2 linked regions of the Homo sapiens genome follow. The protein of the gene in region 1 purifies or fractionates together with the protein of each later gene. This does not show direct contact. Each region holds a gene or a part of one and is shown on either strand. Other genes may lie near its edges. The genes, in order: ABLIM3 and MNAT1.

The links.
Region 2: the proteins of ABLIM3 (region 1) and MNAT1 purify together in Homo sapiens (affinity purification with mass spectrometry; one large-scale study listed by BioGRID and IntAct). This does not show direct contact.

The regions. Positions count from the first base shown.
Region 1 is NC_000005.10:149,245,701-149,249,524, forward strand, and holds part of ABLIM3 (actin-binding LIM protein 3), read left to right. Parts: intron 1-781; coding exon 782-846; intron 847-2,081; coding exon 2,082-2,229; intron 2,230-3,824. UniProt on the Homo sapiens protein: May act as scaffold protein. May stimulate ABRA activity and ABRA-dependent SRF transcriptional activity.
Region 2 is NC_000014.9:60,811,009-60,814,832, forward strand, and holds part of MNAT1 (CDK-activating kinase assembly factor MAT1), read left to right. Parts: intron 1-978; coding exon 979-1,119; intron 1,120-3,824.

The sequences.
Region 1 (3,824 bases):
TGGTAAGGGGTCTCAGTGGTCCTCAGATACCACCTCACCCAATCATACAACCCAAGCTGTTCCTTTCAAGTATGGGGGGAAATTTTTCCCCCCATCAAGATCCACTCTGATTCAATGTCTTTACTAATTCAATGTCCATTCTGAGCAAAGCTTCACAGAAGCTCAGAGATGACTCTTTGGTGCTGGGCACAGTGGCTCACGCCCGTAATCCCAGCACTTTGGGAGGCCAAGTTGGGAAGATCACTTGAGCCCAGGAAATTGAGACCAGCCTGGACAACATAGCACTTCTTCTCTACAAAAAAATTTTTAAAAATTATCTGGGCATGATAGTGTATGCCTGTAGTCCCAGCTACATGCAAGCCTGAGGCAGGAGGATCCCTTGAGCCTGGGGACTTGAGGCTGCAACAAGCCATGATCACACCACTGCACTCTAGCCTGGGTGAGAGTGAGCCCCTGTCTCAAAAATTTAAAAATTTAATAAAAGGATGACTCGTTCGCTACTCTCAAAGAAGTCTTCATTTAGAAAAGAAGGTAAGACACAAATACGACTATAACCAAGTGGGCAGTGATCCATCCCCACAGGAGAGGAGTGTTCAGAGACCACAAAGGCAGCAGAGACCACTTTCAGCTGATGTGGGGCTTAGCTTAAACGAGACTGTTTCCATTGAAAAATAAGATTAAAAAGAAAGAAAAGTGGCTTTTCTTTTTTAAAAAAAAAATGCCTTAAGCCAGGCTGAGTGGGGTGCACATGCCGGAGCTGATCTTTTCTGTCTTTTGACAGTGCCCCGAGCCAGAAGGTTCTCGTCTGGAGGAGAGGAGGATGATTTTGACCGCAGCATGCACAAGGTGGGCAGAGACCACAGCACTGAATATGATGCTTAGAGCGTATATCACTGAGGGTCTTTTCATTTACAAGCAACAAAAAACAGATTCAAGCCCACTTATGATAGAAAAAAGAAAAGCATAGCTTTGCATAACTGAAAAATCAAATGGTGGAATTAGCTTAAAGTATGACTAGATCCAACTGCTCAAAAAAATGTCATAGGAAATTTGTCTCTTCACTTCTGGGGCTTGCCTCTGCATTGGCTTCATGCTCAGGCAAGCTATTTTCACATAATGGTAAGCAGGTGCTTGCAACCCTTGTTCATTGCTGGTGAAACCCTTGTTTCAGCCCCTGTGGAAAACAATTTGGTGGTTCCTCAAAAATTAAACATAAAATTACCACATGATCCAGCAATTCCACTCCTAGATATATACCCAGAAGAATTAAAAACAGGACTTAAACAAATACATATATACTCATATCCGTGGCAGCACTATTCACGAAAGCTAAAATATGGAAATAATCCAAATGTCCATCAGCTCATGAATAGGACAAAATATGGTATGTCCATACAGTGGAATATTATTCAGCCATGAAAAGAAATGAAGTAATGATACATGCCACAATGTGGATGAACCTTGAAAACATTATGCTTAAGAAAAGAAGCCAGACACAAGGTCGCATATTGTGTGATTCCATTTCCATGAAATATGCAGAATAGGCAAATCCATAGAGACAGAACATAGATTGCTGGTTCCCAGGGGCACGGGGAGAGGGGAATGGGGAGTGAGTGCTTCATGGATATGGGATCTCCTTTGGGGGAAATAATGGTATTTTGAAACGAGATAGAGGTGGTAGTTCCACAACATTGTGAATGCACTGAATGCCACTGAATCATTTCCTTTAAAATGGTTAATTTGAAGTTAAGTAATTTTCACCTCAGTTAAAAAGAAAAAGGTGGCTATCTGCCCATTGTTGAATCAATCACTGTGCCAAGACAATGGGATCCTGTCACTGGCCAGGCTTGCTTTTTTGTGCCCACCACCAGACCCCCACCCAGACCACAGGACAACTTGTGGAAGACAAGATGAGATTGCAACAGGAAACATGGGTGCCACAAGGTGGGAGGGACGCTGGGAAGGCAAACATGAGAGCAGGCTGCTATGGAGGATGTGATCCTCAGCCTTGCCCAAGCCCGTTCCATCTCAGTGTCCTTTGTTTTCCTTCTAACTTTATCTTGCTCTTCCCCGACCCTCAGCTCCAAAGTGGAATTGGCCGGCTGATTCTGAAGGAAGAAATGAAGGCCCGGTCGAGCTCCTATGCAGATCCCTGGACCCCTCCCCGGAGCTCCACCAGCAGCCGGGAAGCCCTGCACACAGCTGGCTATGAGATGTCCCTCAATGGCTGTAAGCATGGCTCTGGAAGCCCAACGGGGCGGGGACACCTTTCTCTGTGACTAGCTGGCAGTGTCAGCTGTTTGCTCTGAGCCAGGCTCCCTTGAGGCACAGCCCATGCATCCTCTCTCTTCTTCCTCACAGCAGCCCTGTGGTGGGTGACTTGCCCAAGATCACTCAATTTATCAGTAATGGAGCTTACTTCATCAGCTTCCTTGCCTGCTTTTATAAATTAGGTTCTATTGGAATGTAGCCAGCCCCGTCTCAATCCCCTGGGCTAACAAAAGAATCAGAAGAGGCTGGCCACAAAGGTTAGCCCCAAACCCTGCAATGCCCCTTCTGGGAGCTTCATTGAGGTCTAGAATACAGATTTGGAAAGGCGCTCTATGGGGCACTATGTAAGACCATGCTGCCCTGAGCAGTCACTCCCATTGCTTTGGGGCATCTGAAGCTCTGACTTCCAGTCAGATTCAGTATAAAGAAAAATGGCTTGGCTGGGCGCAGTGGCTCATGACTGTAATCCCAGCACTTTAGGAGGCCGAGGCGGGCAGATCATGAGGTCAGGAGATCAAGACCATCCTGGCTAACATGGTGAAACCCGGTCTTTACTAAAAATACAGAAAATTAGCTGGGCATGGTGGTGGGCACCTGTAGTCCCAACTACTCGGGAGGCTGAGGCAGGAGAATGGCGTGAGGCAGGAGGCGGAGCTTGCAGTGAGCCGAGATTGCACCACTGCACTCCAGCCTGGGCAACAGAGCGAGACTCTCTCTCAAAAAAAAAAAAAAAAAAAAAGAACGATGTCTTATAATCATCGGAATGGCTCAAAGATGTAAGGGATGGCCTCCTGAGGTAGTGAGTCTACCATGATTTGAACTTATACAAGCAGGGGCTTTATTCAAATACTTCTTGAAAATCTCATTGCAAGCTCCTCCTATTCCTGGACACACACACACACACACACACACACACACACACACACACTCTGTCTGCCTCCTCCTTTTCTTACTCCTGTGAGATGCAGTCCTGCCAGGAAATCTCATCTCGGATCAATACATTATGGATAATAAAATGCACCATTTATTACACTTCTATGTGCCAGGCATTTGTAGGAATGTTACACTCCTGGTAGAGCTGCAATGTAGAGGGATTATTATCACCCACTTTATAGATGAGAGAACTGAGGTTAAGCCACTTGCTCCAAGTCAAAAGCCAGTAAGTGACTGAGCCAGGATCAGACCCAAGTTGGAGTGGCCCCAAGGCCATGAGCTCTTCCCTCTTCCCCATACTACACCTTGACTCTCAGTGAGATTGAAGATGTTGGTGTTGGCGGCAATATGATAAAGCCAGTCTTATGGAGTGTTATAGATGCGTCAGGCACTATGCTAAGTATCTTACTGTATTGTGTCACATATTCTTCACAATAATCCTACAAAGGAGGCACTATCACTCCCCATTTTGCAGATGAGAAAACCAAAGCGTGATTAATTAGATTGTCTGAAGTTAGAAATCTACTAATGGCAGAGCCAGGATGAACTGCTGAGCCTGTTTTCCTGCCTGACCACTGAGGGCCACTGTTTCCAAGCCCTGGCTGCGGGGTCTGTGCAGT
Region 2 (3,824 bases), on another chromosome or scaffold:
TGTTTGCTTTACATATTTAGTTGTTTATAATTGTTATATCTTTCTATATGTTGATCCTTTTATCATTATATAATGTTCTTTGTCTCTTTTGACAGTTTTTTAATTAAAGTCTATTTTGTCTCTTATTATGCTCTTTGTTTCAGTGAATGGTGCCAGCATTCATCCAAGTGTTCAATCCATATTTGGTCAGTCTTTATATTCTGTTGATGATCACTCCTTATCATTTTTAAGCCTCATCCCCACTCTAATTAGATTATTACTTTATTTAGGGCTCTTATTTCTATTCTTTCTTTTTTTTTTTTTTTTTTTTTTGAGATGGAACCTCGCCCTGTTGCCCAGGCTGGAGTGTAATGGTGTGAACTTGGCTCACTGCAACCTTCATTTCCTGGGTTCAAGCGATTCTCCTGCCTCAGCCTCCCGAGTAGCTGGGATTACAGGCATGTGCCACCATGCCTGACTAATTTTTTGTATCTTTAGTAGAGACAGGGTTTCACCATGTTGGCCAAGCTGGTCTCGAACTCCTGACCTTGTGATCCACCCGCCGTGGCCTCCCAAAGTGCTGGGATTACAGGTGTGAGCCGCTGCGTAGGGCTCTTATTTCTTATCTGGGTTATTTGAATATACTTCTAACTAGTCCTCCTATTGTCAGTCTTGAACCCAATTGATCTTTATGTATACCTTACTGCCTCTAGTCATCTTTCTAAACTCATCCCTCAAATTCCCTTAATATGTTCCCAGTGGCCTTAGTATAGCAAAATTCCACTAGTATGGTATAACAGAATAGTTGTTTTATTTAATAGTAACGTGTCTACATGAAATAAAGTAAATTCTATTTTCTTCAATATGGAATTGCTACATTATTAAATAATAAGTGACTAGTGTGTTTTATGCTTCCAATAAAGAAAGTATTAGAGTGTGGTATATGATTGCTCTTGGCTCCTAAATTTATTCCACGCCATATATAAATTTTTGTTTTAGACTCGAGAACAGGAAGAACTGGAAGAAGCTTTAGAAGTGGAACGACAGGAAAATGAACAAAGAAGATTATTTATACAAAAAGAAGAACAACTGCAGCAGATTCTAAAAAGGAAGAATAAGCAGGCTTTTTTAGATGAGCTGGTATGTATTAATGCTAATTGTGATTGTAAAAAACATTCTTCAGGATTTACCTTTCCTAGTAGGCTGGATGATGGCATTTAAAGGGCTTTTCCACAGTGTTTGTAATCTGGTTCACCTTTAGTTTTGTTGGTTATGTATTGATATCAGTGTATTTATTGCTGAATAAGAGGTTGCCCTCCATCCACACTGAACAATATGTTTTTATGCTCACAATTCTGTGGGTTAGGAATTTAAGTGGTTCTTTTGGGCTTTTCTGCTTCCCTAATGTATTCTCAGGACACCTCTCCATGTGGTTTTGATAGCGACAGGAGGCAGCCAAATGCCTAGGCAGATAGGGACGGGTACCCAGAGAAACCCCATCTCCATGTTGAAGACAGTTTAAAACCTGAAAGCCAAGCTACAAGTTAAATCCTTGGACCAGATTGAGAACTTGTCCTCCTGTTTGGTGTGCTTTCCTCTGATTGATCCCCACTCTTCACCTATTTTATGTATATCTACCCTTTCCTAATTGGTTTTCTACACTGTCATGCCCATCTTTGAGTAGTGTCTTCACTTCAACCTTTTTTGCTTACTCATAAGCTAATTCAGCACATTCTCCTCATCCTGTGCCTATAAAGACCCCAGACTCAGTAAGTAGAGGAAGAGACAACCTGACTTCGGGGAAGACGACTTGCTCTTCCTGTCCCCTCTCCAGCTCCCCTCTCTGCTAAGAGCTGTTTTCATCGCTCAATAAAATTATCACCTTCGCCATCTTTTAACCATCCCTGTGACCTCATTCTTCTTGGATGCCAGACAAGAGCTTGGGACCCACCAAGTGTGGGTACCCAGAAAGGCTGTCACACTGGCACTTTGCCCTTCCTGGTGGAGAGCAGCTGCCCTAGGTGACAAGGCCAGAAGCCAACTGAGCTGCCAACACACTGTTGTCTGATGGCAGAACTAAAGGAGCACTGTAACACTTCCCCTGGGGCTTTGGGGTTGTGGGCCCCCTCACCTGGGCACTGCCATGTTCCCCTTGAGGCAACATGCCTGGTCTGGCTGTGGGCCCCACGTAGAGTTTGCTTCTGTGTCCGTGCCTGGGGCGGATGGCTGGGTCCTGCACTTGCTTGCTTGTGTCTGGTCTGACTGCGGGCCCCATGCAAAACTTGTTCCTGTATTGGTGCTTGGAGCAGCTGGCTAGATCTGCGCTGACTCACCCACGTGCTCCCTCCCACATAGAGTTGAGTGCAGTGGGTCTAGTAGAGGGGAGTCCTTACCGTGAATCTAGTGAAGGGGCTGACTACATCAGAAACTGCATCAATTTCTGTAACAGTGTGATTGTACTTCTCACATGTTGGCTCAGGGTTACAAGAGAGAATATCCCAAGAATAAGGAGGTAGAAGATGCTAACATTTTAGGGCTTGGGCTAGGAAACTGGCACAGCACTGATTCCACCATATTAGTAAAAGAGCCCACTCAGTTACAAAGGGAATGGATATAGATCTCACCTCCTAATGGGAGTGTGATGGCCATCTTTAGTCCACACAGTATGTACTGGGGAAAACTATGTTTTTCTAGAATTTGGCATAATATAAATTCATTTGGGATACTCAGTCTCTATCCCAATGTGAGTTTAGTGATAAGAATTATGAAAATGACTTTCATTTTCATATTGTAGTTTGTCTTACCCTTATGCCTATTTATTTATATCATGCCAACTACTATGAAGGATTTAAAGTGATTTCCTAGATAAGAGTATTGTTTGTGGACATGGCACTACTTACTTTGTGTAACTCTAAGAACGATGTTAAAATGAGGTTCTAGTATATTTTACTTCTATATTTTTAAAAAGATTTTTGTTTAATATCCATTTTATTTTCAGATGAGAGAGTGACATTATAACTGAGATGAGCCAGTATATTCTTGATAGATTGTTTATATGGCTTTAAGCTAACTGACTAAAATACATTGTTTCTGAAGCACTTTTCTCCTGATTAATACTATTTTTCTAATAATGAGCTCATTTTGGCTCCATGCTGAAGTTTATATTGACTGTTTACTTTGTGACAATATATTTTATATTTTTGCATAAAAAAATAGTGTATTTTTGCTTGAAAGAAATAGCGGGGTTTTTGCAAATTATTGTTTTCCAGCAATTAGCTTCCTAGGTAGTCAACCTTGTTAGATAATGACAGTAATAATAACTAAGGTTTATGAAGTGTTTCATGGATTTATTACTATATTATTTGATACTTATAACCCTGTATGATATTGATGACTTCACAAACCGGAAAATCTTCCTCTCCAGGAAAGTCTTTTTGCATTCTTCTCTTTCCCTTTATGTTCATATAATTTATTTCCCTGAGGCTTTTGTGTTTGTGTGTGTGTGTGTGTATGCAGTGTTAATACACTTAACTTTCTTGTCTAGTTGATAATGCTATTATCCTATGATTGGGGAAAATATGTATATATGTGTTCTTCTACTGTGCTTTTGCCAAAAAAGCATTTAAGTCAGTTAACCAGGAGTAAAAAAAGAGAAAGCAAGATTACTTAAATTATAAGGAGGTGAGAAACTAAAGGAAAAATAAGGGTAAGGGCATTCATGAGGCTTAGATAGAAAACACTGTCATAAAACTCTATTTTCTATGACTGGAATGTGAATTTGGCTCTAAAAATGAGGACACCAGCATATTAAATAGAATAATGACGCCTTCCCTAGCAACTTTCAT